7 separate regions of the Homo sapiens genome follow, and regions 1, 2, 4, 5, 6 and 7 are each linked to region 3. The links come from fine-mapping of genetic effects on gene expression. A gene starts in region 3. Each other region holds a variant in brackets. All regions are shown on one strand. Distances are between the middles of the regions. Region 1 overlaps DAPK1 (death associated protein kinase 1). Region 2 overlaps DAPK1 (death associated protein kinase 1). Region 3 holds the start of DAPK1 (death associated protein kinase 1). Region 4 overlaps DAPK1 (death associated protein kinase 1). Region 5 has its middle 53 kb from the start of DAPK1. Region 6 overlaps DAPK1 (death associated protein kinase 1). Region 7 overlaps DAPK1 (death associated protein kinase 1).

Evidence for each region. PIP is the estimated chance that this variant, and not a neighbour inherited with it, causes the effect.
Region 1: its variant is fine-mapped to the expression of DAPK1 in monocytes after interferon gamma (Fairfax 2014, PIP 0.95).
Region 2: its variant is fine-mapped to the expression of DAPK1 in whole blood (TOPMed, PIP above 0.99).
Region 4: its variant is fine-mapped to the expression of DAPK1 in testis (GTEx, PIP above 0.99).
Region 5: its variant is fine-mapped to the expression of DAPK1 in stomach (GTEx, PIP above 0.99).
Region 6: its variant is fine-mapped to the expression of DAPK1 in whole blood (INTERVAL, PIP 0.92).
Region 7: its variant is fine-mapped to the expression of DAPK1 in whole blood (TOPMed, PIP above 0.99).

What each region holds. Positions count from the first base shown.
Region 1 is chr9:87,542,572-87,546,944 of GRCh38, reverse strand. All of the region lies in intron 2 of DAPK1 (death associated protein kinase 1), which reads right to left. Among named protein-coding and RNA genes, the nearest start is that of DAPK1-IT1, 8.7 kb to the left of the region's middle. The variant T/C (reference allele first, on the strand shown) is at 1,850.
Region 2 is chr9:87,554,507-87,558,879 of GRCh38, reverse strand. The region is part of intron 2 of DAPK1 (death associated protein kinase 1); the gene reads right to left. Among named protein-coding and RNA genes, the nearest start is that of DAPK1-IT1, 3.2 kb to the right of the region's middle. RefSeq lists an enhancer at 2,877-3,046. The variant C/T (reference allele first, on the strand shown) is at 1,782.
Region 3 is chr9:87,495,337-87,499,709 of GRCh38, reverse strand. It overlaps DAPK1 (death associated protein kinase 1), which reads right to left and starts at 1,843. Exons shown (of 26, transcript NM_004938.4): 1 at 1,603-1,843; 2 at 571-740. The coding sequence starts at 632. RefSeq lists silencers at 885-994, 1,205-1,394, 1,765-2,114, 2,135-2,194 and an enhancer at 737-1,494.
Region 4 is chr9:87,601,418-87,605,790 of GRCh38, reverse strand. It overlaps DAPK1 (death associated protein kinase 1), which reads right to left. Exons shown (of 26, transcript NM_004938.4): 3 at 616-837. Among named protein-coding and RNA genes, the nearest start is that of DAPK1-IT1, 50 kb to the right of the region's middle. RefSeq lists enhancers at 264-323, 374-423. The variant T/C (reference allele first, on the strand shown) is at 2,359.
Region 5 is chr9:87,442,460-87,446,832 of GRCh38, reverse strand. No RefSeq gene overlaps it. Among named protein-coding and RNA genes, the nearest start is that of DAPK1, 53 kb to the left of the region's middle. The variant A/C (reference allele first, on the strand shown) is at 2,505.
Region 6 is chr9:87,519,900-87,524,272 of GRCh38, reverse strand. All of the region lies in intron 2 of DAPK1 (death associated protein kinase 1), which reads right to left. Among named protein-coding and RNA genes, the nearest start is that of DAPK1, 24 kb to the right of the region's middle. The variant T/A (reference allele first, on the strand shown) is at 2,528.
Region 7 is chr9:87,612,368-87,616,740 of GRCh38, reverse strand. The region is part of intron 3 of DAPK1 (death associated protein kinase 1); the gene reads right to left. Among named protein-coding and RNA genes, the nearest start is that of DAPK1-IT1, 61 kb to the right of the region's middle. The variant C/T (reference allele first, on the strand shown) is at 2,114.

The DNA.
Region 1 (4,373 bases), 47 kb before region 3:
ACTCAAGAGATCCACCCACCTCAGCCTCCCAAAGTGCTGGGACTACAGGCATGAGTCACTGTACCAGGCTGATTTTTTTTTTCTTTATAAAGCTAATATGGAATGCAGATTGCTCTAGGCAGTGCAGCCTCTTCTAACGTCATCGGAGTCCTCTGTTAAAAGAACAGGTAGGGAAAACAAAGAGATGAGATGGAAAGGAGGGAGAACGGAATACAAGAGAGAAAAGAGAGCTGGGTAGAGAGAGGATGGGGAAAGACAGAGAAAGGCTCATTCGTCTTGTCACCCAAAGCCAACATGCTGTCTCTGGATTGATCCCACATCTCTGTTTTCTGCATGTTTGATGCTTTAGCATTGAGGCCTTGTTGACCCTGGAGGCACTGCCCCTCCCAGAACTAGTGGATTCCTAGAAACTGTAAACTCACCTGCCCATCTTTCCTATGCAGACCCAACCAATTCAGAGCTCAGACCACCCACCCCTACCTCCTATGGGCCACAATTCTGCCTTAACCAACCAAGGGTCAGATGCCAGGCAACCAGGGACAGTATCTACCTCCCAGAGCCTGCTGAAATTCCCCAAACTAGCCAGCCCTAAATCCTGTCCATTCCTTTCTGCAGAAACCACAGTAGAGGCTCTTGCTCTCGTTTTCCCCTCACTCCCACTGCCTCCTGACGGACCCTGCTGCTTCTTGGGGCCTTGCATCACATGGGATGCTCCTCCTCTTGGGAACTGTGAGATCTTTTCATTGACGGTCATCTCCCAGATCTGTAAGCTTCACCATATCTGAATAAAACCTACATTTTAAAATGGTTTTGCTCCACCACCACCCAATCTCACCACAGGAAAGCTCAAGTTTATTTAACTGAAAATCAACTTCCCAGCCAAGGAGCTGGCTGGACTCTATGACTCAACCCTCTATGCTATGGGAAGTACTGAGAATCTGTACTGCAAAAACAAAAACAAAAAACAAACCCTCTTCTTTTACACTTTCTGAGGATGCAACAAAATGGTCTTACAGAATCATGAGCAATCACTGAAATATAGCATCTTATGGAACTGATGAGACAATCAGATGAACCCCTTTATTTTAAGGCTGAAATGTGGCCAGGTGTGGTGGCTCACACCTGTAATCCCAGCACTTTGGGAGGCTGAGGCGGGTGGATCACCTGAGGTCAGGAGTTCGAGACCAGCCTGACCAACATGGTGAAACCCCTTCTCTACTAAAAATACAAAATTAGCCAGGTGTGGTGGTGCATGCCTGTAATCCCAGCTACTTGGGAGGCTGGACAGGAGAATCGCTGGAACCCGGGAGGCAGAGGTTGCAGTGAGCCAAGATCCCGCTATTGCACTCCAGCCTGGGTGACAAGAGCAAAACTCCATCTCAAAAAAAAATTTTTTTTAAAGCTGAAATGCCTCACCGAGGCTCACCAGCCGAGGCAAGCCTAAGCATTCTGACTGATGTCTGTCTAGTTTGCCTATTTTCTTCTAGTACCTTCCATGTTCGCCTAAAATTGAAACTAATGAATTACTTAGAGTTCTTGCTTGTGGTCTACTGATCCTCTAGTATTATGTGTATTTTAATTAAAGCAGCCATTACGATCTCTTCATCCCAAGTAACTGCCAGAGCTGAGATTAACAACAGTTTAGCTGTTGGTTCAGGAACCCTTTCTAAAGCTCATTACGCACTTCCTAACCCTGCACCCGGGAGCCTGGTTTGCAAGGAGAATTGGGGAGATCAGTCAAGTGGAGGCCTCAGATTTTCTGAATAAAAGGTGTTAAGCACTTTGGCAGCTGGTCTGACAGCCTCTGCTCTTCAGGAGTTTTGTACTTGCTGCAAAGTGCAGGGATAGC[T/C]GATGATAATCTTCCAGATAGGAAGGCAAATTTGAAAAGCCATCCATCAAATTCCGAAAGTAACCTAGATTGTGTGGGGACAACCACCAACAGTACTGAAGATGGGCCTGTCCTCAGGTCCAGAGTGGCCTTGTCTGTGAGAGGGTGGGGACTGGGCTGCAAAGGTGCATGGAAGCAGAGCTGTGTCCCTACCTCACCTTGCTGGGGTAGGGAATGGGACCAAATTAAAATCTTCACTGTTCAATTTCATCCTCTAGCAAAATGTCTTTCTTCCTGCATTTTGGGTACTCGTAGGAAAATTAGCTTTATGTCCGTCTTAAACATGCCTTTTAAAATGATCGTTTTCCAGCTGTCCCTTGTTCCCAGTTTGAAGTCTTACATGCATAATCCATCTCACCAGTAAGAGCCCGAGAAAAAGGACTGTAGGGACCACCCAAAGCCAGCTACCAAAAATAAATGTTACAGCCACTAAAAATATCACAAAAATAATAATTTTCAGAAAGCTGCATATTGTGTTTGCAAGGAACATTAGAAAAATTTTCTGGTGTATGTGTATACTTATATGCATATTTACGTGTACATACATTAATGTACACAAGTGTGTATGTATGCATGCATACACACATACACACTCACATATATTCTCATGTACTATATATTCTTCACCATATCTATAACATTTTTCCCTGTTCATCCATGCAATATCTAAAAATGAAAATTTGTCATTGTCAAAAAGCATTTATTAACTGAAACTCATGACAGAGATTTGAGTGAGTGGAGTTATGGGTGATTTTTCTCATGTTTCTAAAATTTAGATAATGAATTATGTTGCTTGTACAATTTGTAAAAGTTAAGCTAACATATTTATATACTTATTCATGTATGAAAATTTGTCATTGTCAGAAAACACTTATTAACTAAAACTCATGACAGAGATTTGAGTTAGTGCAGTGATGGGTGATTTCTCATTTTTCTAAAATTTAGATAATGAATTATGTTGCTTGTATAATTTGTTAAAGTTAAGCTAACATATTTATATACTTATTCATGTGTGTTCCTCTTCTGAAACGTTAACTGAAATAATTTCATAGATTGAATCCCTGCCTTCCAGAGGATTATATATTTACAATTTCTACCTTTATTATTTCAACATGTTTGTTTTTAAATATGACAGACTGCTAATTAAGGCCACATGAAATCTTCTGAGTCCTCAATCCTTAAAACTATAGCATAATACTATAATAAACAAAATCCAAACACACAAGACTACAAAAACAAAAAAGAAAAAACAAAACCCTCTTCTCTTACACTTTTTGAGGATGCAACAAAATGGTCCATCTTACAGAACCATAAGAGATCACTCAAACATAGCAAAGATAATGCATTTAATGTAGATATTTAAAAAGTGAGTCTTTTACATTTTTCCCAAGTTTTTATTACCTTATCCAGCTCACAAACTGTACTGCCAAACAATGCAATGCTTAATAAAGCAACTATTTAGAAAAACCTCAGATAAGGACAAATATTAATTTGCAGAAGGTTCCATGAAATGAAAAAATAATCCTGAGTCATTTTGGCTGATTGTGTTGTTTTTACTAACTACATAAGAATCCACCTATCTACCTCTTCAGAGAACATTTATTAACAATGTATTTTAAAGAAACTGCACTCAAAATGATTCATAGTCATATTCAACTATTATTAGGCAATGGAAATTATGTCTATGAAAAGTGTTCATTTGTAAGTGATAAGCACTGAAACTCAGACATAGGCCCATTAAGGAGGCTATTATAATTTTGTTTTTGTGTGAAGGTCTCCTTCTTGCCTTTTCTCCTCTACTGTGGTAAGAGCAATTTTCTTATCAGATCATCTGTTTTAGACATTCTTAAGCAGAACTATCACAGCCCCGACCAAGAATTACATGTTGTTTTGCACATAAATGTGAAACTTTAAGTAGCATTTTTATATGTTCTTTTATTTTAACATTCTCTAACTTGCTCTATACAACATGTCCCATATTTTAAATCCCTACTTATTAAAATAATTCTTATAAAATGTCCCCAAACTTCATTGCAAAAGCAATAAAAATTTGTTTTCTAATGTCACCCATGCAGTCTATAGTACGCTAATTAATGGTAAAAAGACATGCTACCTATGAGCCAAGTTACCAGAACATCTATTTATGATCGTGATGCCATTTCATGCATGTCCATGAACTCTGTCCTGGGGAGTGTGAGGCATGCATGTGGGCATCCCATTGCTGAAGGCCCAGTGAGGGGTTCCATATTGACTCCAAAGCCAGACAGATCTCTGGGCAATGGCAAAGGCATTAATCTCGGACTCAGACAGACTTGAGTTTCCCCTTCTCACTGGCCGTTTGTCTTTAGGTAACTGAGCCACTCAGCCACAGCTTCTTCATCCTTAAAATGGGAATGATCTTTCCTACCTCAGAGGGTTTGGTGAGCCTTCCGGAAGTCACTGAGTGTAAGCCAACCAGTACCATAGGTACTTGGTAAATACTGAT
Region 2 (4,373 bases), 59 kb before region 3:
TGGTTTCTCCTTTCCCACCTGCCTAACAGGAGTCCGCCCACATGGAGCATGGGAATCATGCTTTCTGCACGTGGGAGCCCAAATGGGTAGATGCAGCTCACAGAGCAGGCTCTAACTGAGCCCCCATGTGGCTATAGCAGGCTGTCCAAGGAATCCAATGAAGCAATGAAGGGGTCTGCAGACAGGAACTACCAAGTCAACAAAAACTCCCTCCATCACAGCCCTTCCCTGCAATGACAAGTCACAAACAGCAGAAACCAAGAGACCAGCTAGTATCGAGGAATTGTTCGTTTTCGTCGAAAGGGACGTTGGTGTGCAATGACCACCTTACAGCTTGTGTATCTGTACTCACACGGCTGTGTGTGTGTGCATATGTGTACTTATGTATGTGGAGCATATTATCAAGTGATTCTGAGATCCTGTATTCATGGAAGATTTTTAGTTGCAAAGCTTATTCGACTAGATCCCTTCATTCTTTTTCATCTTGCTTTATTTATTCTGTCCCGTTGATCTGTGGGTATATCCTCAGGGGTGCAATGCAGTCCAGTGGCCTGCTCTTGACAAAAGAGCATGATCCATTTTGGTAAATAGCTCCTGGGATGCTTCAGGGAGAGGTGCTGACAGGCCAAGATGCATACCCACTGTGCAGTAACATGTGAGTCCCTAAGAGAGTCCATGACCACCATGTGAAACCAGACAGACCACAAGCTTCTGGCAGCTCTCAAGGGGCTGGCAAGATGACAGGACTGTGACAAGCTAACTGCCCATTACCACACTGGGCAGGACCTCACAATGCTGCTGATCAAAATTAAAATGAAAGATTTATTATGGCTGAGCAAGTAAAAGAAGGAAAACATCCAAAAGATTCCAAACTGACTTATCCAACAAGAGACACGCCTGGCTAAAGGATTCGGTTTTTGTTTTTTGTTTGTTTGTCTTCAGACGGAGTCTCACTCTGTCACCCAGGCTGGAGTGCAATGTCATCATCTCAGCTCACTGCAACCTCCGCCTCCCAGGTTCAGGTGATTCTCAAGCCTCAGCCTCTCAAGTAGCTGGGACTACAGGTGCATGCCACCACACCGAGCTAATTTATGTAATTTTAGTAAAGACGAGGTTTCACCATGTTGGCCAGGCTGTTCTCGAACTCCTGACCTCAAGTGATCCACCCACCTTGGCCTCCCAAAGTGCTGTGATTATAAGCATAAGCTACCGCGCCCTGCCAAGGATTAGGTATTTTTTAAAATCCAACACATTTTTCTTTTAATGGATCACTTCTCAATGAGTAATGTTTTAACAGGAGGGGGGTTCTGTAAGAGATAGAAAAAAAATCTAATGGCTTTGTCCCAAGATCATTTGTCAATAAAAGCTACTGACCATTTAATATTATTTTAAATTCATAATTCCTTAATCGGCATGGTTTTAGAGCTCACAAAAGATGTTTTGAATCACAGGAAGAAAGCTGTATTTTCTTCATGAGATTAATAATCTAATTTGGAAGGACGAGGAAGGCAGTGGGTGAAACGTAGAAAGAACACGACAGGAAGGTACAGGACAAAGGGTCTCCCCTGACAGGGCCATGGTGGGAAATGAAGATGTGGGTTTCCAGACTCTTCTCAGATGGATCTGAGCATTCCTCATGGGGCTGCCTGGATGGATGTGTGGCTGCCAGGTAACACTTGCTTTGAACAAAGGTTCTGAGCCCAGAGGTTTGAAAACCACTGGCCTTACAATGCCAGACACTGAGCTTCGAGGATGTTGAGGAAGAGTTGCTCCTCCCTTCC[C/T]GCAACACCGCCAAGAGGGAAGGGTGAGGGGAAGGGCCAGGCTGCCTTCCTCTTTTCTGTTCTTTATGAGATATGAATCCCTAGAGGCCAAGGGGAAAGCCGAAGGTCAACTGCCCACCTCCGCCAAGGTTCCTGATAACACATCTCAGAGAAGCTCCTCTCCCACCCACAACTGCAGGACTGGCTCTTCAAGGAACACGCCCAAGGCAGCCCAGGAGGCCTGGCCTGCAAAGGCTCTGCCCAGCAGGCACAACTCATGTCTATTCTCACTCCCTACTAGAAACAAGGACCAAGAAAAGCAATTCCAAACCTGAGGAGAGCATTCCTTCTCCTGAGGGTATGGGCTGAGGAGCCACACAGGCCTCGATATGTTCTCCAGCGAGCTCCTGGAGCGAGAAGTACCACAGCCTTGTACCATGATCACAAGTGAAAGACCTCACCTTTCAGAGACCAAACCCTGCTCTGTGAAAGGGTAGCTGAGGCTACTCCACAGAGTTTCAGCAGGAGACCGCCATCCTCCCCATGCTCTGCCAATCCCCCGCACTCCTCCTGACATTAGCATGATGGGGCCAGGCTGTAGCATTCACTGATGTGGCCAGAATACTAACCCATGCATGGCTTCCCATGACACTGAATAAATCCATGATTCAAAGACAGCAAAAGGAAGCCCCTTTGCCCGTGACGGGCAGCATGCACAGTGGGTACAGGTACACACACGTGGGCACCCTCCCCAGCTCTGTGAGCTTTGACAAAGGAAGCTTGGGCAAAGTACCTTGCCTCTCTGCACCTGTTTCCTCCTCCATAAAATCAACATAATACTTGTACCAACCTCACAGCGCTGTTGTGAAGATTAAATGAGGTAACACAGGAAAAAGCACTTAGAACAATGCCAGCCCACACAGGTGCTGGGCTGCATAAGTCATTATTAACTACATGTCCACCCAAAATGTCCTTCTATTTTTGGGTCCTGCATCACTGATGAGTTTCGGTGACGGAGATTAGAATACAAAAAAACAGTTCTTCATATGCCCCGGGCAGTAATTACCATGGTGGCATTTACTCTTGCTTCTTCCTTCATAATACCTCATTTTCTCATTCGTCTTTTTAGGAATAAAACAGAAGCTACTGACAACACGTACTAGTGACTACTTCCATTCCTCTAAATAATAATTTTCCCATGCAATTGTTTAATCATATTGATATGGAACTCGCCTAGCTTTTAGTTAGCCGGTAATTTGTTAACAGTGTGCTCTTGCATGACTGCATATTTGTTCTTAACGATAAGCTTTAAAGTGCTTCTGGCTGCAGTGGCTTACGCCTGTAATCCCAGCACTTTGGGAGGCCAAGGCAGGCAGATCACCTGAGGTCGGGAGTTCGAGACCAGCCTGACCAACATGGAGAAACCCTGTCTCTACTAAAAATACAAAATTAGCTGGGCGTGGTGGCGCATGCCTGTAATCCCAGCTACTCGGGAGGCTGAGGCAGGAAAATTGCTTGAACCCGGGAGGCAGAGGTTGCAGTGAGCCGAGATCACACCATTGCACTCCAGCCTGGGTAACAAGAGCGAAACTCCATCTCAAAAAAAAAAAAAATAACTAAATAAAATAAAGTGCTTCATGATAAATAAATTTCACTTTGTTTTTTCTGTTGTTGTTTGTGTTACTAATACTTCTTGAGGAAGTATATCAGATAGCCCCAGGGTGTCATTCTCATCTAGTCCTTGTGTCTGTGACAGAGAAGGAAAAGAGAGAAGGCAAAAGGGAGGGCAGATATGTTGCTTAAGAGGTCAAGACAAGGCTTAGCTGGGACCTAATTGTCTGACTTAATGTCTGCTTAAGAACGTGCTGTATTATGGAAATGCCCTAACGGGACAGCTAGATCAGGAACTGGGTTTTCTGGGACCATGAGGTTTAGAAATAAGGAACTTCCTTTGCTGACAAAAAGGGATGTTATGTAAACCCCCAAGTCCTTAAGTCATAATACTGAGGCTGCCCTTGAGGGCAGGGTGATGAGACCCTGGTGCACACCCACACAGCTTTCCCCACTTCTTTGCTCAGGACTCTTCAGAGGTCCCTGCAGGGTTCCTCCATGGTTCTAGAAAGTTCCTTGGCACTAAGAACCCTCTCCAGAGATCAAGGGGCCTCTACAACTGATACCATCATTAGATTCTCACTGTAGATTGTGGCAGAGAACTTGCCACCAGAAGGGCTTCCCTTTAATGACCTCCAGGAGAACTGGCTGAAGCCAAGGGCAGAAGCCCTGACACTCTCAGACCTCCGGTGGGGGTGGGGGAAATGGCTACACGGCCTGGGTGGGAGACAGCATCAGCTTCCTCCCTCCCGCCAGAGCAGTCAGGCCGAGGCCAGCTGATGGCACTTTGCTCATTTGGGTCCAGGTTGCCATGGAGATCAGCGATCTCCCTAGATGCCTCCTGACTATAGGAGCAACTAGCGCATTACTGCCGAGGGATCTACATGAGCGCCCTAAGTCCTACTGTGGAGAGGGCCTTCCTGTGGAAGGCTCCTAAGGGTGGTCCCATCCATCTTCTGGCTTGAGTCAAAGACAGAGTTCCAGCATAGTCACTGTTATGTC
Region 3 (4,373 bases):
ACATTGTAAATGAAACCAAAGCAACCACCAACACCAACCAGGTAATTAAATTCCTGGTTGGAAGAAGTTTCAAAATCCAAGCCCAATGTCAACATCTGGCAAGTCTCCATTTACCACCTACCAATACTTGCTCAAATTACACTGAAAATTTAGATAGAGGGTAAAGTACTAAGATTTTTAAAACCTATTAATTAGTTTGTACCCTCCGTTTAAATCACACATAAAAGCTAACTCCAATTGCAATTATAATCTTAGTGTTTGTCCTGTTGTCACAGAAGGGCAAGGGCTGACAAGAGTTAGCACGGACAATTAAATCTGATTTTGTCCAGGGGACTGGATCAATATACTGTGCATCATAATCTAGCCCTGAACTGCTGCCTCTCCTCCACCCCCAGGCCCTTGGATCAGGCGGTTTACCGCTGGGTTAGTAACTCTTTTCTCTATGATTTGCGCATCTCCAGAAAGGGCGAGGGAGACGCCTGATTCAAACTGCATTTGTTTACCACCCAATGGCCCCATCGTTATGCATTTCCACAATCCAGGAGGGTACGCTTCTGGTACCCCCTTTACCTGCCAAGTTCCTCGCCGGTGTCGTAGTAATCATCCACGTTTTCCTGCCTGAACACGGTCATGATAAACTGTCACGCCTCACCAAAGCCCAGGGCACTTCAGCTCCGCTTCCCAGACCATCACCACCGCTCCTGCGCCTCCGTAGCCCCCTCATGCATCAGTCTCCAGTCCTTTTGAAGAAAAAAAAAAGGCAATAATAATAGTAAAATGGCAACCCCAAAAGGAAGTAGACCTCCCCGGCGCTAAGACCCCGCTCGCTGAAGACCGGGTCTCCGGAGCTGCCCCTCCTCGCGGGGTGGAGAGGAGCACCCTTTGTTAAAGCTGGGCGGCCAGGGACGCCCCCGACCCCTCAGCCCCGCGCGCGCGTGGGGCCGGGCACCACGGCACCCCGAGGTCGGCGTCCCCAAACGCTGGGCGGTCTGTTGGGATCAGAACCGGCTCCGGAAGTGACTGGCCTCCCCGCCTCCCCTTTCTCTGCACACATGCCCACCCAGCTTTCCCACCTCCAGGGACGCCGCGGAAGAATGAAGCCCTCGCCCAGACGGTACGCGCCTCACTGGGAGCAATCTCTCTCCAGCCTGCGGCAACGGTGGCACCCCCGCGCCACCTCTCGGCTCCCGCGCCTCTCCTAACACCGTGGCCACCCTCTCCCCTTCCCCGAGCGAGGCAGTCCCCAGAGCCACATTCCTGGCGACTCCCTCTCCGTTACCCGGCCGACCCGGCGTGCGGCCGCCCGGGGGAGCAAGGGAGGGAAGGGAGCGGCCCACCGAGGCGCAGCAGTTCGCTCCAGATCCTCGCGCCCCGACACAAAGCGCCTGGTCGGGCCGGCGCCACCTGTTCTCACCCGGCCCGCGGGGCTGGGGAAGCCTCCCGGCTGCGATCGCACTTCTCCCCGAAGCCAAGTTTCCCTCCGCCTTGGCCTTCCCAGTTGCTCGAGGCACTGCCCGGACAAACCCCACCGCGCCCTGGCTGGGAAAGCAAAAGCTGGCGCCGGGGGTCGGGGGGACCGGGGAGCCGCGCCTGGCTACTCACCCGGGCGCCTGGGAGCTCCCCCGGTCCCTCCGGAGCGCTGTCGGAGGCCGACCATAGGCGCCAGCGCCGGAGACTAGCCGGGGCGGCGGCGGGAACACAGCTAGGGAGTGAGTGGGGGGCGCAGATCCCTCCCAGGCGCCGGCCCCAGACCCTGCCGCTGCGAGTTGCCGAGTCCCCTCCGCGGAGGGAACAAAGTCCCCGGCGTTGGCTCGGTCCGGCTGTCCTCCTCACACTCCGAAGCAGCCTCTCGGCTCCTTGCCGCCTTTTGGGCGGAGGGCGGCCGGCAGGCGGCCAATGGGGACCCTGCAAGCGGGCTGGCGGCGCGGCCCACCCACCTCCGAGCTGCCCTGCCAGGCCGGCGCTGCGGGTTCTGCGCGGCGCTCGCTGCTCCTCCCAGCTCCGCGCTCCGGGCTCGCTGGCGCGCTCTACCGCGCACACCCCGCACACACCCACTCGCCCCACACCCACGCCGGCCGGGGAGCCAGTGCGTCCGCCCGGAACGCGGGCGCCCCACCTGTGACACATTGCTAAGCTGCCCTCTGACTGGGTTCTAGGGAAACACGGTTCTTCCGTCCCGAGATGTGTACTGGGATCCCAGCTTGTGCCGGGCACGGTGCTTGGTATGGGAAAATCACATAGAACAAAACAGATTTTTTTAAATCCCTGCCTTCCGGAAACCTGCATTCTGGTGGGACAGATAGATAATAAATATGTAAGCTAATTAATAAGGTAATTTTGGAGGATCAGTCCTACGTTTACCACGAAACAGGTTAATGGAATAGAGAATGGCAGGAAGGGAGCGTACCTCATTAGACTGGGTTCCTCTGCCGGACTGGTGTTGGAGCCGAGGCTTGAAGGCAAGAAGGTTTGCAATCTGAAGAAAGGGTTGAGGTCTCCGAGACCCAAAGAAGCAACAGAGACGCAGAGTTTATTTGCGCTATCCCATATGCTATTGGCTATTGTTGAGCTGAAATGTAGCTAGTCCCAAATTAATTGTGCTGTAAGTGTAAAATACACATTAGAGTCCAAGACAGTATGGATATGAGAATGAAAAATATCTCATGAATATTTTTATATTCATTACACTTTCAAATGATAGTATTTTGGATACGTTGGGTTAAACAAAATATATTATTAAAATTAATTTCACCTGTTTACTTTCTTTTTTTTGAGACGGAGTCTCACTCTGTCGCCAGGCTGGAGTGTAGTGGAGCGTGGCAACCTCCACCTCCAGGGTTCAAGTGATTCTCCTGCCTCGGCCTCCCCAGTAGCTAGGACTACAGTCGCGCGTCACCATGCCCAGCTAATTTTTGTATTTTTAGTAGAGACGGGGTTTCACCGTGTCGACCAGGATGGTCTCCATCTCTTGACCTCGTGATCCGCCCGCCTGGGCCTCCCAAAGTGCTGGGATTACAGGCGTGAGCCACCGCGCCCGGCCTCACCTGTTTACTTTTTAAAAGGTGGCCACTAGAAAATATAACAGTACCTATGTTGCTTGCATGAGATTTCTGAGGACTGTGCTGGTCTACACAAAGATCCCATATCCACTGGAGACCTCTATCCACTTTCTCTACTTCCCACCCCTTGCTCCCACCTAATGTTTGGGTGGAGACGAAGAAGGGTTGATTCCCCACATCCCACTGCTGGAGAACCCCAAACGGTGAAAAGCTCCTAAAGGGAAATCTATTTTACTGCCTAGAATGATGAAAACTGACAGATGAAGAGATTTCCGATCCATACCGTTGTTCAAATCCCCAGGCTTTCTAAACTGAGTTGGTTCAAATCTCTGTGGTTCAACAGAAATTTTCAACTGTGAAGATTTTGGCCTCTTGAAAACAAGGCAAAACAAAACAAAAGAATACCCCTCAGGCCTTATGTCAAATCCTAGTCTTTTTTTTTTTTTTGAGACGGGTTTTCGCTCTTGTGGCCCAGACTGGAGTGCAGTTGTGAAATCTTGGCTCACTGCAAACTCCGCCTCCGCCTCCCGGGTTCAAGCGATTCTCCTGCCTCAGGCTACCCAGTAGCTGGGATTACAGGCATGTGACTATGCCCGGCTAATTTTGTATTTTTAGTAGAGACGTGGTTTCACCATGTTGGTCAGGCTGGTCTTGAACTCCTGACCTCAGGTGATCCTCCCGGCTCGGCCTCCCACAGTGCTGGGATTACAGGCGTGAGCCACTGCGCCCAGCCAAATCCTAGTCTTAAATAACATTGCATTAATGACCCACAGGAAGGGCACACAGGAATCAAGGGGAAGTCCCCAAATTGGGAGATGGTATTAGCTTAAGCAGTGGGCTTGATAATACAAAAGGGTCTTGAGAGGTGAGAAATACAGTCAAAAATAACAACAACAACAAAAAAAGAGTGATTCATCTGGGAAAATGCAAATGAATACATCTGTTGGGAGAAAAAATTTAAAACACAGATGTTTGGGATAAACTTGGAAGGTGTTTATGGATGACTGCCATATGGGTAATATTTATTTTCTGCAAAATAAAAAATATATTGTCCGAGGCAATTAAAAGGACTGAATCTATTTGGCAGCTAGAATGTCTTAACTACCCTAATGGACAATGATGTTCACCGGAGATTATCTGGAGTAGTGAAAAAGAGCATGAAATTTGGAGTCACAAAATTAGATCTAGTATTGGTGGAACCATTTAACAGCTTAATAACCTTGGATGAGTCACTAACCCCCGAGCTTTTTGTGTACACCAATTTAGACAAGCATTTTAGAAAGGGGAAATGTGGTCATTTAAAAACATATTCAC
Region 4 (4,373 bases), 110 kb before region 3:
AACGCCACAGAATAACCTGCCGCAATCAGTTTCCCATAATAACATCCGACGGGCATGGCTTGCCTGAGAAAATCAGCAACTTGCTTTAAAAACAAGTCCTTTTTGAGTGATTCTGGCTCAATTTTACCCATTCATATAATTAGTGTTGATGGAATTAACAGTTAAAAATGGGGTTCGTGCATTTAAGATGGAGGGGGAAGAGATGGGGGAAGAGATAAAGAGAACAGAGGAAGAAAGGCAGAAAAACAAACAGAGAGAGGAAAGGAATAGAGTGAGAGGGGAGAAGGACATATGCTTGAAGCTTAACAGGAAACTCAGAAAACAGATGTGCTCACGGCAAAGATGAACCCCAGAAAGTGGTGAACCGCAAGACTGGGAGACCCTCTTGCAAACTGGGTGGAACCACAGTGATGGGAGTTGCTCTTTAGAGTTTGTTCTAGATCCCTGCAGCTGGGTTTCAGGTCAGGCAGCACGGCATTGTTCTCACACACCTCATACAGCAGAACCAATTCCTGATCCCTCTCTCGGGCTCGCTGTGGCGTGGTCCAGCTGGAACGAAGATGCCAGCTGACGCCCACCACACCCTCTCCCCAGCCTGGCCCAGGCGGCACTCACAGTTCCAAGATCAGGATGACGTCCGTCTTGTTCTCATAGACCTCGTGCAGGGTGATGACATTGGGGTGCTGGATCTCCTTCAGGATGCTGACCTCCCGCTCGATGTCCTCGCGGCTCACACCCCGCCGGCTGGACTTAGTCCTCCTTTTCTTGATGAATTTGGCGGCATACTGGAGGCCGGTGCTTTTCTCACGGCATTTCTTCACAACCGCAAACTGTCCACTGAAAAGAGAAGATGGAGGATTCTTTATCGTTCATAAAAAAAACAGGATTTGAGTGAGGATGTGGCATGGTGCAGAGGGGGACAAGAGAACTGTGAATAGGAAAGTTCCAATTGTGGAAAGTAACAAATTAGGTAGGGATGTTTCTTATCATCATTCATTTACACTAAGCCTGTTTCTTTATAAATAATGCTGCAAGGAATATAAACTTTTAAAGTATATTTTATTGAAAGAGTGATCATGTCTCCATTTCTGTCCTCTCCTCCTTCCCTCCCACTTCAGGTCCTGGGACAGCAGCAAGGAGCTCTGTGATCTGACCTCACTTCCAGCAAACTCTTTTCCTGCACGTCTAGTCTCTGAGCCTGAAAAACGAGGGATTGAGACCAGGGAATCGGTAAAAAAAAATATATATGAAGTCCTGCCTTCAACAACATATTTCTAGCACCAATATTAACCAATTTAAATACACAGAACAGAAAAAGGTCTATTATTTTGTTTATAATTAAGCGACTGATAAGTCATATGTACCAAATATTTGTTGGTCACTTCTCCAGCATTATCTCCCCTCTCCTCCCGTCTCAAGGTATTTCTACCCAGGGATCTTTGTGGTTTTGGGGAAGCCGATTCCACCCCCAACTGTAAATACGGATCATGTGACCTAGGCTGAGCCAATCAGTCCACTCCATTCTCCTGACCACAATGCCAAGTAAGACCCTTCAGAGGATGCAGAGACACAGGCTTTCTGAGACTCTTTTCTCTTTTGAGTGTGACAGAACCCCCCCCTCAAAGCCGCTGCCAACTGTCTTGGGACCATGAGGAGAGCCACTCTTAGTTTGAAGACAACCACTGCAGAAGCAGAGCCAGTAAAAGGAAAGAAACCAGGTCTGCAGTGACACCATGGAGTCACTGGATCAGCCCCGGCCTGAAACCATCTGCCTGTGATGTTTCAGCGACATAAGCCAATAAATTCCTTTTATGGCTCAAGTCAGTTTGATGGGTTTTCTACTTCTTGCAGAGGAAAGCACCTTAAACATCACAGCAAATAACCAGATTCCCTTTCCCATATATTAAAGACTGTAATAATAGAACTTGACTCAAAATAATAAGGGGTAGGCAGTAAGTGCGTGAGACGGTGAGAGGTACACAGGCCCCACTGATAGTCAGCGGAACACAACGGAAAGACCCTCCCGGCCCCATGCTGGTGCCCTTCGTTCTTCCCTAGTGCCCAAGGAAGGGTCGATTCACCCATCACAGGATCTGTATGTTTCTTGGTACCTGCTGGATAACTGCTATGTAAAGAATTATCACAGGTATTTTTAGCTGGCTTTATCCTCACACGAAGACAAAAGCCAGAGAGAAAAGCAAATTAAGGATAATATTTTGATGTTAAAGAATGGATACTTTAAAACGTTACTCATTTACTTTAGCAGTAGGAGGCCAGTGAAGAAGGAACACAGAGAGAAGGATTATCTTTATAGCCGTGTCAAATTTTTTGCATGACAGGTTGTTAATACCCGCTTTG[T/C]CCCTGCAGCAGGATAGCTGAGAAGCTGAAGAATAAATCACACTGGAATGCCAGCACCGACTGCCTGTAAACTCGCTACCTTAAACAATTACGGGGTCTATGTAATGACTTCATTACAACCAAAATCCAATTTCTCTGAGGAGTAAAAACCTTCCCTCTATTGTGGGGCGGAGGGTGGCAGAGATGGGGCATACGGAGAGAAGAGGGAAAAGAGCTTGAATTCAAAACACAGTCAGCTGCTTCCTTTAGAGTCCAGGCCCCTCCTTACAAAGATGTTATTGTGTCCCCACCAGGCAGATTCAAAAGGACCCAGGATAGGGAGGCCCAGCCCAGCCCAGCCAACCAACAACCAAGCTGACAGTTCCAGAGGCTGGGCCCATTCATACCTCACACATGGCCAAAGCAACTTGTCTCAGAGACTTCCAACTCAAGGCACACTCAGTAGTTTCAATCATGGTGCTTTAAAATTCAAAACTAAAAAGCTGAGAGAGAGAGAGAGAGAGAGAGAGAAACAGAGAGACAGAGAAAGAAAAACCGCTTTGGGAGGCCGAGGTGGGTGGATCATGAGGTCAGGAGTTCGAGACCAGCCTGGCCAACATGGTGAAACCCCGTCTCTACTAAAAATACAAAAATTAGCCAGGTGTGGTGGCGCGTGCCTGTAATCTCAGCTACTCAGGAGGCTGAGGCAGGAGAATTGCTTGAACCTGGGAGGTGGAGCTTGCAGTGAGCCGAGATTGTGCCACTGCACTCCAGCCTGGGTGACAGAGCAAAACTCCGTCTCAGGGGGAAAAAGAAAAAAAAAAGAAAAAAGAAAATCCTTCTGGCAGGAGAGTCACAGAGAATTTCAATGCAAGCCTAGATACAAAAACTGTTCCACGTGCGTTTTCACCTCCAAATGTTCTATATTGGAAGTTTCTCCATTTTATTTATGGGAAGATGGTAAGTAAAGGCAGGTTAGCCCTGATGGCAGGATGAAGGCAGGTGCTGAATGTCATGTGTGCTCATGCCCGAGGGAACTGTGGTGCCTTCGTTTACAGCAAAACCTGGGGAATGGACTCTGTCACCTGACAATGGATCCCTCACTCACACTGCAGGGTCCCCATACGAAAAGTGCTGGCTGGTGAGGAGGGGATAAGAGCTGGTGGGTAGGAAGGCTCTGTGTGGATGCTGGGGTACTGGCTAACCCTGACTGCAGAGAGTAAAATGAGGGTCTAGAATGAGCTTGGGAAACTTGTTCTAGACCTACTGCAATGTCACCTCTTTTAAGATACCGTTCCCTATTCTTCCCTGACACCCCTAACAATCTATTCCCTTTCCTCCAATCTGCCATATCCCTGAGTCGAAAGAGCACCCCATACCCCTCAGGGGCACCTGCTGTTTTCTGCCCATTCTTGCCTTTCCCACCCTCCCAGACTGCCAATGCCTGGGGGACAAAGGGCTGCCAGGCTCATCTTCACATCTCCTGAGGCCCTGGGTGCAGACCTACTTCATGTAGTCCATGCACAATGCACATATGCTGCAGCTGACGCCTGAATCTATAACCCTGAGAACCCGAGGAGTTAGACAAAGTGTTCTGCATTATAGTTCAACAGAATTGTGTAACGGCTAGAAGCCAGCTGTGTAACCCAAGGTTTATTTAGGACTTAGCCACTCTAGGCCTCAGTTTTCTTATCTGTAGAGTGGGCATAATAAGTGCCTGTCTTGGAGGGAGTAGGATGAAATGAGCGCATGAAGTGTTTAGGACAGCACCTGACCATAGGGAGTCTTCAGTAACTGTTAGCTATTATTAATCTGCGACAACTGGAGTTATTTTCATCAGCACACTGTTGCCCCAGTCTCACAGTGATGCAGTATTACCCCCCAAGTACCTACCTCTCATGACTGCCAGAGAGAAAAGAGCCCTCATAGGACAAAAAAAAAAAAGCCCATGACAGGGCTGTCCTGTGCTAACGATGTATACAACTATTGCTAAATCCTCACTCCCTTCCTCCTTTTGCTGCCTGTCCCCACCCAGA
Region 5 (4,373 bases), 53 kb after region 3:
CTGAGAGAAGAGCTGGTAAAGTGCATGAAGCATGCTGAGATGACACTTTTGGGACTGACTCTGCAAACGGAGGCATTGTATGGGTGCTTGTTCTATGCTGTGGTCAGATATGCCACAAGAGAAGCCAAGTGCTTCTTTCATTTGCCACTTGACTGCAGTTTTAATTTTTTTGTTTTTTAACACATTGTATTAGTCCGTTTTCACACTGCTTGTAAAGACATGCCCGAGACCAGGCAATTTACAAAAGAAAGAGGTTTAATGGACTTACAGTTCCACATGGCTGGGGAGGCCTTACAATCATGGCGGAAGGCAAGGAGGAGCAAGTCACATCTTAAGTGAATGGCAGCAGGTGAAGAGAGAGACTTGGGAAGGGGAACTCCTCTTTTTAAAACCATCATATCTCCTGAGACTCATTCACTATCACGAGAACAGCGCAGGAAAGACCTCCCCCCATAATTCAATCATCTCCCACCGGGTTCCTTTCATGACAGGTGGGAATTGTGGGAGTTACAATTCAAGATGAGATTTGGGTGGGGACACAGCCAAACCATATCACAGATAAAGACATTTCAGAGCCTTCCTCTTGAGAGTCTCTCCTGAAAATGACCTCTTTGGGCATAGGGCTATACTCCAGATTCTTCCTCCAGAATTAATCTTGGTTGCACATAGCTGGAAACCCCATTATGCAATTTAAACAAAATAGAGGTTGTTTTTCCTTTGGTATAGGAAAGATCTGGAGGCAGAGAGCCTAGGGCTGAGATCAGGCAGCTGAAGTTCTGATCAGCAAGCTGGGCTTCGTTATTCCTTCTCTTCCACAACCTTCCTACAGTCTTCTCATGGTTGCAGATGGCATCTGGTGCTTGACCCACTAACTCCGAATTTCCCTGTGGAATCTAGAAGGGAAAGTGGAAGAGCAGAGGAGTACCCTTCTCAACTGTCAGTCCCCTTTAAGGAAGTAGCGTGGAAACAACACTTCTATTGACATCTCATTGGCCACCCTGAGGAGCATGGCCTTCTGGGAAATGTAGTCTTAACGAGGCTGTGGCTGCCTGAGGTGTCATTCAGTTCGTTAGGGAGGAAGAAGGGAAAATGAATATTGCAGAGGCAGCTGGTGGTCTCTGCCACAGACCATCCCACCCCCCTGCAGTCTTTCATGTCTCTCCCTGCTCTATTATCAGAAGTTTCCTGGCCTGTCTATGATTCCCAGCTCTTAAATTTTTTTTGGTGGAGGAGTGGGAAGAAGCTAACATGTTAGAGTCTATGAGGGTTTAATATTTGTTATGAAAGGGTTACTGTATGGATGAACTTTTAATAGCATAATTTCAGGTATTTGCGGTAATCTGAAGGAGAAGAGACATTATGAGGCAACTACACTTTGCACATGGAAGGCCACACTGGATGTCACCTCCTCCCCAGGGTCCCACAGACTTGCTGGCCTCCCCTCGGCTCTCCATTGATTTTTCAGAGCTGGATCTAACAGAGCCTCCTCACCTCCAGTCTTCAAGCTGCTCCAGTTTCCAAGTCAGTGAGTTTTAACCCTGGCTTTACTTGAGAATCAAAACATACCTCTTTCCAAAATACCGTCACATGTGGCTTAATGACAAACATAGGTTCTGAGAAATGCGTCGTTAGGCAATTTTGTCATTGTGTGAACATCATGGAATGTACTTACACAAACCTAGATGGTATAGCCTGCTACACACCTGCATTACAAACCTGTGTAACATGGGACTATATTGAACATTGTAGGCAATTGTGACACAATAGTAAGTATTTGTGTGGCTAAACATACATAAACAGAGAAAAGGAACAGTAAAAATATGGTATAAAAGACCAAAAAAATTATAGGGCAGCCCCATTATAATTTTATAGGACTACCATCATATATGCAGTCTATCACTGCTCAAAATGTCATTATATGGCACATGGCTATTCATATATCTGGACTCCATTATAATCTCCAAGGTTGTATTGTAATCATATGCATTTTGAAAAAGCACCCCAGTTCATCCTGATGGGCATTCAGTGTTGAGACTACAGTTTTTGGACATTTCTGATTAATGTGGAATAGTTTTTGTTTTAATGCTTCAGACTAGTCCCAAAAATAAAAAATGGAGAGTTAGTTTGAGAATGCCTCCCCCCAACAACCACCATTTGCCTGACCAGGGAAGCCATGCCTGCTAGAAGATGGAATTCTGGAATTCTGCATCAGTAACTGAATCACAGAGCTGTGTAACTGAGGAGCTCCTCCTCTGATAATGGGGGTGTTTGTTGGAGCTGCCTGAGGGGATTCTGTACTTTGCTGAATCAGATTTTTCCTTGAACCCTAATTCTAACTTGGGTGGCTATCTTGTGCAGGAAAGAAAAAAACTTTCCCTCTACCCTCAAGTTTGTCGCTGGGTCCTTTATATTAAACTGACAAAGACCAATAAACAAGAGGAAAGGTTTATTTTTCATGCACATGGAGGAGGGCAGGCTTTACAGAAAAGAAATAAAAATCCCCC[A/C]AAGAAGTGGTTATGACATTTTAACAAAGGGTAATAAATTGTGATAACACAAAGGAAAAGGAATTTGGGCTGTGTGATTGTTAATTTTTTTTTTTTTGAGACCAAGTTTTGCTCTTGTTGTCCAGGCTGAAGTACAATGGTGTGATCTTGGCTCTCTGCAACCTCCACCTCCCGGGTTCAAGCAATTCTCCTGCCTCAGCCTCCCGAGTAGTTGGGATTACAGGCATGGGCCACCACACCCGGCTAATTTTGTATTTTTAGTAGAGACAGGGTTTCTCCATGTTGGTCAGGCTGGTCTTGAACTTCCAACCTCAGGTGATCCGCCCGCCTTAGCCTCCCAAAGTGCTGGGATTACTGGCATGAGCCACCGTGCCTGGCCTGTGATGGTTAATTTTAGGCTATATAATTCAGCAGTACTATTGGTACTTGAGTTCCCTAGGCTCAGTTGACAGAGGAAAAGAAGACTAGGGCCTTATGGAGGAGTCTGCACAATAAACAGGCACCTAAATTGTGCAAAAGGAAAGAGCTGTAGCACTTTGGCTTTCTTCTAGGACATCCTTAAAGACAATAATGAAAGAAAATCTTCACAATGGGCAGAACTGCAGGCGGTTCACTTTGCTTGAAAGGAGAAATGACCAGATATATGATTACACACTGATTCATGGGCTGTAGCCAATGGTTTGGCCAGATGGTGAGGGAATTGGAGAGAACATTATTAGAAAATTTGTAGCAAAAGAAAATGGGAGAAGAGGTATGTGGATAGAGCTTTCTGAGTGGGCGAAGGATGCAAAGATATTTGTGTCCCATCTGAATGCTCACCAAACGGTGACCTCAGCAGAGGAGGGCTTTAATAATCAAGTGAATAGGATGACCCATTCTGTAAATACCAGTAAGCATCCTTCACCAGACCCCCCTGCAATAGCTTAATTGGCTCGTGAACACAATGGCCATAGTGGCAGAGATGGAGGTTATGTATGGGCTGAGAGACATGGACTTCCACTCCTCAAAGCTGACCTGGCAGCAGAGACCAATACTGAGCCCCAATATGGCACCATTCCCTGGGGTGATCAGCCAGCTACCTGGTGGCAGGTTGATTACGCTGGAGCATTTCCATCATGGAAAGGGCAATGTTTTGTCATTACTGGAATAAACACTTACTCTGGATTTGGATTTACCTTTCTTGCTAACAAGGTTTCTGCCAAAACTACCATCTGTGGACTTACAGAACATCTTATCCACCACCATGGTATTCAGCACAACATTGTTCTGACCAAGAAACTCACTTCAAAATCAAAGAAGTGTGACAATGGGCTCAGACTCATGAAATTCACTGGTCCTATCATGTTCCCCACCATCCTGAAGCATTTGGCCAGTAGAACTATGAATGGCCTTGTGAAGCTACAGTTACAGTGCCGGATGGGTAACAATACTTTGCAGGGCTGGGGCAAGGTTTTCTAGAATGCTGTATATGCTCTGAATCAGCATCTAATATATGGTTCTCTTTCTCCCATAGCAAGCATTCATGGGTCTAGGAATCAAGGGGCAGAAGTGGAAGTGGCACCACTTACCATCACCCCTAGTGACCCACTAGCAAAATATTTGCTTCCTGTTCCCATGACTTTGTGCCTTGCTGGCCTAGAGGCCTTAGTTCCAGAGAAAAGAATGCTTCCTTCAGGAGACACAACAATGAGTCCGTTGAACTGGAAGTTAAGACTGCCACCCGACTGCTTTGGGTTCTTCATGCCTCTGGGTCATCAGGCCAGGAAGGGAATTATGGTGTTGGCTGGCATGTTGATCTTGACTACCAAGGGAAAATTCTACTACTACACCACAATAGAGGTAAGGAAGAGTATGTCTAGAATACAGAAG
Region 6 (4,373 bases), 25 kb before region 3:
CCAGAGACCTGAGGAACAGTTCCAAGGTCAGGGCATGCTGGAATGTGCAGGGCCTTTGGGCCAAGAGAAACAGGCACCCCTTCCCCCAGGGAGAGGCCCAGAGCATCAGTGGACTCCAGCCCCTCCTCTGTAAGAACCTCTATCGGGGCACAAATGGCTCATCCACCAGGAACGCCTTATCCAAGACACTAACTTGCCTCTCATGGGCTGTACCTGTTTCATCCACCTCGCTGAGTAGAGATACTGCAGACCATCTTTCAACATGTTTAGACAGTGCACTCACTAGCATGCCTGTGATTCTGAATATAGCAAACATAAACACCGTAAGGCTTGTATTTTCCTAGAGTGGGATTTCATCAGTCTAGCTCAAGCTTCATTTCTGAAGCTCTTCACTCCCCAGCTCACAAGAGCTCCTGGAAACAGCAGCTTTGCTGATTCCCTACAGCTACCAACAGTGCAGGAAATCTCCCTGGTTGAATCCAGCCAGCCCTCAAACCATGTTTTGATGAGCAAATGGTAACTGAGGGGCTCTGGAAAAACTACGCCTGGAGCCATACTTCACACTTCACACGAAAATAAATTCCAGGCAAATCACAGACTTAAACATACATAATAAGCCATCAAAGTACTAGAAGAAATTATGAGAGAATATTTTAAAAATGAATTTAAAGTGGGCTGGGCACGGTGGCTCACATCTGTAATCCCAACACTTTGGGAGGTCAAGGTAGGCAGATCGCTGGAGCCCAAGAGTTTGAGACCAGCCTCAGCAACATGGCAAAACCTCTTCTCTACAATAAATTTTTAAAAAATCAGTTGGGTGTTGTGGCTCGTGTCTATGGTCCCAGCTACTCAGGAGGCTGAGGTGGAAAGATCTTTTAAGCCCAGGAGGTCGAGGCTGCAGTGAGCCATGATTGTGCCACTGCACTCCAGCCTGGGCAACAGAATGAGACCCTGTCTCAAAACAAATAAACTCAGAGCGGTAAGGGCCTTTCTAACTGTGATACAAAACCCATAAAAGATTAAACGAATTTGATAAATCCGACTATTTTAAAAAATACAGCTGTCTGGGACGGTGAAAGACTTCTGGAGATGGATAGTGGTGATGGCTGCACAACCAATGTGAATGGACTTAACGCCACTGAATGTGCACTTAAAAATAGTTAAAATGACAAGTTTCACATTTTATCACAACACAAAAAAAAATCATGGGGAGAAAAGTACCAGAAACAATGCCAAAAGACAAATGACAACCTAGAGAAAAGATGTGCAAATCATAACATGAACATAAAGCTATTTAATAGATAAAGAGCTCCTACAAATTAATAAAAGTCTACAAACGTAGAGAAAAATGGGCAAAGAGTATGAATAGAAAGTTCAAAGCAGAGACAAATAGTTCTTAAACATACTTGAAAACATGCTTACACTTATTCATACTTAAAAATTGATGAAACTACACTTATCAAAGTAGCAAGAATCAAGCAGCTGTGAGACAGCGAAAGAAGCCAGCCAGCTTTCTCTTGTAGTTGGGCTGAAAACTGACTTACGGTCTATGAAGAGTAACTTGGTAACACATACAAGAATGACAGATGCATGTTCTCTTTCATCCAGCAATTCCACTTCTAGGAATTTACCTACAGATAGCTTCAACATTTTGTACATCAGCAATCATTGCAGAATTGCTTATAATAGAAAAATTAGAAAAGAATCCTAGAAGTTCACAGACAGAAAGGGTTAAATAAATGACAGTAAATCATAGAGAAGAAAAAGGCATGTCTTCCTATGTAGTAATGGAATGATTTTCAAGTTATGCTATGAGGTGAAAAAACAAAAAAGCCAAAGGCAGAACAATGTGTATAACATGCTACGATTTCAGTAAAAACATGAAAAAATTTATGTTTATTGTCTTAAATACACATAGAATATATATGGAATGATCTCAAGACTCACTAGAAGGAACTAGTCACTGGAGGGCAAGATACTGTCTTTGACTTTCGAACTGTGTGAATGTATTACATATTTCATTTTAAAAGATGTAAAGGGACCTGTCTGAGAAAAAAAATATAACTCTTGTTCTCCATAACTGGCCATTCTAGTTAAGTATTGTTGGTGACTACTGTCTTAGTCCATTTTCTGTTGCAGAATGGGCAATTTATAAATAAAAGCAATTTATTCAGCTCGTGGTCCTGGAGGCTGGGAAGTCTAAGAGCATGGCGCTGGCACCTGGTGAGCATCTTCTTGCTGCATCAAAACGTGGCAGAGGGCATCGCATGGCAAGAGGGCAAGAAAATGCTCACTAAATATGCTTGGGCCTCTCTTCCTCTTATAAAGCCACCAGTGGCACTCCCACGATAACGCATTAATCCATTAGCCCTTTCATCCACTAACCCACGTATGAATTAATCCATTCATGAAGGCTCTGCCTTCCCAATCACCTCTTAAAAGCCTCACCTCTCAACACTGCCATACTGGAGATTAAGTTTGAACATGAGTTTTGAGGGGATAAATATTCAAACCAAAGCAACTACCA[T/A]AAGTCATCAAACTGCTAGATAAGAAGGTCTTCTCTTTCCTAAATGATGGGGAATAAAATTGCCAAAAGATTGGATAAAGCTGGAAAAAAAGTACACTAAATGAGATGTCATCCTTCTCCTCTTCTTTGTACCACAGTGCCCCAGTGCTGACATCCTAGCGGAAGGCAGGACATGGCAGCTGAGTTCTGACAGTGGAGACGGTCTCTGGTGCCCCTCCTTTCCTGTGATTCTTCAATGCCCACCCTGGACCTTGTCCTCATGGGATAAGAACTGGAGTCCCATGGACTGGCTCCTGGTCCCAGCTTTGAAACCTCATTCATCCATCTCACCAATATTCACTGAATCTCTAATCATACATTCAGCACCTCCCTGGGTCTGGGGCTAAAGACTGAATAAGACAGACAAGCACCTGCCTTTCCAGACCTTGACAATGGAGCTAGTGATGTGCTCCAGCCTGCCTGTGCTGGCTCACAAGAGACAACTGTTCATTTTTCAGGAATTTCATGACCTGGTTGCTAAACACAGACACCCTTAGGTGATACAGAATCCAACAATGCTTCAACCCCTGCAACAACACCAAAAGCTTAAAACATAGCTAGCACTATTGCAATCAGCAGTGCTGAAGCCAAAATGAAGCTCAGCTTAAGGAACATAATTTGTACAAGGTGAGAAATAGTCTAACAGTAGATCACATATTAGATTTAATGGTAATAAATTTACTAGGTAAAAAACTAGTGAATTGGAATGCAACTCTGTCAAACCATTGTCAGTCATAGGTTGGCCACAGTAAAAATCAATAAAAGCATTCTGTGAGCCTACATTGGCTGAATGGAATTTATAATAAAGAGTGCACATAGTTTGTTATTAGTTGTAAATTGTATTATATACCCTTTGTATCAGTACATGTATAGATATATGTGCATGTATATTTATACTGAGTATGTATATATACCTATGTATGTACGCACACAGGTATGTATGTATACACACACAAACATTTCAATTCACCAGTGCATTGAACTCTGCTGCCTCAAGCTTAACTTCTTTAAGCTCTGGTTTCCCAGTTTTTAAAAGAAGTATAGAAAACCACTTCCCACCTATCTTCGAGGGTCAAAAAGAAACCATATAGGCTATAAAATTGTTACCGATATCCTAATTCATCCCCCCAAAGTGGCGGATTTTTAAACACCTGCTTCAAACAACTTTCCCCTTGTCTTCCGGCTTTCAAGCACCTGTCTTCCTGTCTTCAACCTCTTTATTATCACAGGAAGAAGTGCAACCCAGAGAACAAGAGTTCCACAGAGCTGAAAACTGCTGTCTCCAGCTGTGCCTGTCCCTGTCTGAACAGGGAGGACTTGGCTCTCCAAGGTCCTTTCACAGCCTCACACCCCAGCAGTTCCTCCACTTCCTCCCAGAGTGCGAGGAGGCTAATTCACACCTTGTTGTGATGCTGGCAAGGCTCCTGAACCCTCAGCACCAGAAGCCTATTTTTCCATCAATCCGTTTACACAATTCTGGAACCCTCTGCTTCTTCTCCCTAGGTGCAACTCCAAGCTCTTCCTATAGAACTAATTTTAAGCCATAATTAAATCCTAACCTATTAGAACACATGATACACCTTTCTACAAGCATGAGAAGCAATTAAAACTTACCTGGGAAGAAGTCAATTCTATATTAAGACTTCCTTCTTCCTTTTGGAAGCTCCAATTTCCTTTTTTCTGTTTGTTTCCTTATCTTTATTAACAACAACAAAAAAAAGTCACAGCATTTCAGACTACTCAAACACACAAACACTAACAAAGGCACCCACAGTGACAGCCTCGTCCCTAGTGTCTGGATCAAAGG
Region 7 (4,373 bases), 120 kb before region 3:
AGGGTCCTCACACCACTCCCCTGTTTTACTTTTCAGGCCCAAGGGTGATGACAGCTCCATTCTCAGAGGGTGCTTCCCCATCACTTATCATGTTCTCCAAACCTTGCACACATGTTTGTTAAGTCTCAAATTTCCCTGTTTGTGTGGGCCGTCTGTTTCCTGGTAGGACCCAAACTGACCCAAACCCTGATACTCAAGAGGATGGGGTACTTTGCTCTTTAGGAAACTCAGTCAAGAGTTTTCTGAAGCTCATGCAAGTAAATCAACGTTTCCCCCCAAAACTGTCCTTCTCCCTGGTCAACTAACTGGTTCTTGAGCCACACGTGACTCTTTTTCAGATCCTGCTGTTCTTCCTGCTCTATCTGGACTTGACATCCATGTATTGGGCCAAGCACAGTCTTCAGTGCTGTGGGTGCCAGAGTAGGACGTAGTCTTGCCCTCAAAGAAACATATGCAAGGGGCATATAGGCACATGCCACTATCACACCAGAGCCCCCATGAAGCCATCCCACTCCTAGGCTTCAGCAATCCCACTGGAAAACTAGAACATCTTCTGCCCACCCCCAACTTCATGGAAATGCTAAGAAATGAGGGGCAAGAACAATGCAGCCACGCTAGAGAAGGAAGCAGAAAGGTGAGGGGCCCTGGGAGGCCAGGTTGGCTTTCAAAAGCTTCTAAATCACTGCTTTCAAATGGAGGAGGAGCAAATGTGTCTCCAGAACCACTGGAATGTGAAAGTCACTCTCAAGAAGGAAGAGCAAAGCTGGCCAACCAGCCCACAGACAATGGGGCCTTGCAGGCAAAATCCTACAGTGGCTTAGCAGAATCCTAGGGCTTAGAAAACTCAAACAAAAGAATTCTCTCTCCAAGAGGCTACTGTCTGAGAATGAGCATCTCTCTACCGGCTCCTGTGACCTATATGTGGACAGAGGGGGCACAGCGTTCCTTACCTGCAGGGTGGTAACACCACTCTCCTAGAGTTGCACGCAAGGATTAAATGAGATCATTTCAGGGAGGCGCCCACTGTGGCTGACTCAGAAAGGTAAAGTGAAGGGCAGTTTCCCTTTTCCTCCAAGGAAAGCCACTCAGTTGTTTAACCATATCCTCTCTTCAGGCAGTTTGGGAAGACCCATGCCTAAGTGCAAGTGCCTTAAAAGTAGTGAACGTTCTACCCTACATTTTTGAAATAATCAACTCTACTTGAATTTTCCTATCAAAATATTAGGGGAAACGTCAATGACACTTCTGTCGTCCAGGGAAGACCAGGTCCTTGAGCCCATTTCTATGTAACTCTGTTAATTGAATAGTGTTTGCATCTCACAGTAGCCATGCTCGGTCACTGCCTTCATTCAGAGGCTGGAAATGAAACTGACATTTCAACACGGAACAAGCACATATTCCCAGCGGTCCCGCTGGATCCCTGATGTTCCTCATTTGCATTGCAGTAATTTTGACAATATTAAAAACAAGTTACACACAGGGAAATAAAGAGTTGTTAAATAGAAGAAGGTGAGGTAATACTTGGTTATCTGGAAATACAAATTAGGAGGAAAAAGCAGTATGAGGTTGTTCTTGGAAGTATTTGCTTGTTAAACCACATTTTGCAAGGACGTGAGGCAGAAGGGGATGCTCTGAGGGGCTCAAGGACGTCTTGGGAAGACTGTCACTGACCTGCTTGCAGATACTGATCTAATAAAGCAATGCTCTCATGACCTGTGGCCTAGGCACTCTCCGTCTTGGAGTACCAGCTGGAGACGAACCATCCCCGGCTGCCTGTCTCCAACCCTCACTCCAGTCACCATCCCAGAATTCTGGGCACAGCAAGACCTGGATGTGGACTCCGTATGACCAGAGTGGGGGAAAGCCAAATGGAAGGTTTGAGTGGAGCCTGACCACCAAACAGGCAGTCCCAGGGCCTGGAAGGGACTTGGCTCTGGGTGGAGAGAGGCAGCTGCCTGGCCAGGATGGCGGCAGCCACAGTGCCGGGGAGCCCACGACAAGGATGGGGAACATACTGGAGCAGCGAAGAGAGGGAACTGGGCAAGAGGCAAAACCAGTACCTGTGAGGGGACAGCTAAAGCCGCAATTCCACAAAGTTCTCTTCCATTACACC[C/T]GCTTGATGTGCAGGTTGGGGAAGCAGTTGGCCAAAACAGGAAGAAGAAGATATGAGATCAGGGAGAGTTTCTAAGAGGAAGTATGAACAATTTGCAGGACCTGCACCACCCCAGAGAGTGATGCAGAAGAGTCTAGTCCCTGGGAAGGAGTCTAAGAATAGTCACCTGCCTGGAGCTGTGACTAAGCAGCATTGCCTCAGTTTCCCAAACTTTAACCACGATCATGGGTCTTTCTTGGAGATAAACAGAGATTCCAAATATTACTTATAGCTCATGTATTCAGCATGGAGAACATCATGGCAGATACTAAAGTTATGACTATATCCTAAAAACTACAGATCTATGAGCTCACAGATACCACATAGGGTTTGTTTGTAAGACTCCTATTGTCTCACTTTTTCTTAAGACCGTGCAGAAATCAAATAATCCACTTCAGTGAGTGAAAATACCTATTTAATAACATTAAGGGAACACTTTTCAACTGAACTGGCAAGAAGTGAGAGTATGGGGGAAGACACACACAGGGTTTTCTTTCTCAAGAGAATGCCTGGATGGAAAATAACCTATTTTACATGATTTAGCTCTGCTTTGAAAGGCAGAGACTGCTGCCAAATGCACTTTACTTCTCTGCTCTTGCCTAATAGTAGGTATCTGAGGAGCGGGATGCCAGAAGTGGAACCCACAAGAGCTCTTGAAATTACCTTTGTGAATAAAGACAAAAGTTCAAAAAGTCAAAAGAGCTGGCTCGAGCTCAGAAAAGAGAGAACAAATGTGGCAGCAAAAGAACGCATTGAGGAAGTCTGAGTGTGTGCTATTGTGGTTCGTGAGCGCCCAGAGAGAAGCAGAGACAGGGAGACTGAAGGGCTCTGTGCCACACACCCCATTTATCAGCTTCCCTAAGTCCCGACCACCACATTCAGCTCTGTACAATTTTTGCCACTTTTAAGATCCTTTGAAACTATCACTTTAATCACTGCATGTGTTTCTTCAAAGGCTCTTGCGATTCTGATCTTGCTGACCAAGGCACCATGTGTTCGTCTACATACATGCACCACGCTGACATACAATGAAAAACAAAGTTGTATTTGTATTCTGATTATTTTGCATCTCAGTTTGGTTATGAGAGAGTGAGCCAACTGAACCGTGATCCTACATAAAGTGACCTAATATTGCACAAATGTTTGAATACAACTTAGCAGTTGTTTGTGATGGGCAAACTGAATTCCAGAAATTATTAACTTAGCCAAAGTAAAACACAGAGCTAAAAAGGAGTTGTTCAATAGGCACAGCATTTCAGTTTTGCAAGACGAAAAGGTTCTAGAAATCTGTTGCACAACAATATGCATAGAATTAACACTGCTGTACTGTGCACTTAAAAATGGTTAAGATGGTAAACTGTATGTTGTTTTACCATGATTAAAAAAATCAGCAAAATTTACCTTTTTAAATATAAAAAATGCATTATTCACTCCACGCCCTGCACTTGGCTACAACCATAGCAGACTGCACTAATTAAATGGAATTTCCTGTCACAAAGAAAGAGAGAGAAAGCTAAATGGGGTTACTCTGTTTTAAAGATGTGCTTCGAAATGGAAGCAGAACAAATAAGGGGAGACATTTAGGATTGGAGAACCAAACTGGCTTGATTTCTCTGGAACAATCCACCATGCCAATACTTACTTGGCCATCTTAGCACTTTTACTTTATAATTCTTAACATGGTAACCTTTCAGACATGTGATCCAGAGCTACTCAGGTGACCATCCTGAAGCAGGCCAGAACCTGGTGATGTCCATTTCTTCCTTATCTTATGTTAGACTCCAAACCCCCACCCCCGCTCCAATCCTTCTCTGCTCAGGCTATCTGCAGGGAGTGAGATGTATGTATTGCGTCATTTTGCAGTTACCTGATGGCATTACCATAATTAGGCATTATGTTTTGTTTTGTTTCTAACTTGCTTATAGAATTTTAGATCAACATGCGAGTAGGCTCCCAGTCCAGGAAATCTAGTTTCTGTTAACTGGTGCCTCTGTGTTAGTTTCCTAGGCCTGCCCTAACAAAGGACCACACATGGGGTGGTTTAAAACAACAACCTGCTATCACATAGTTTTGGGGGCTGGCAGTCCTAACTCAGTACGTTGGTAGGGATGGTCCTTCTAAGGGATCTGAGGATGAATCTGCTCCATGCCTCTGTCCTAGTTTCTGGCAGGTTCCTTGGCGTATAGATGCTTCACTCCATTCCTCTGTCTCCACAGGGCCT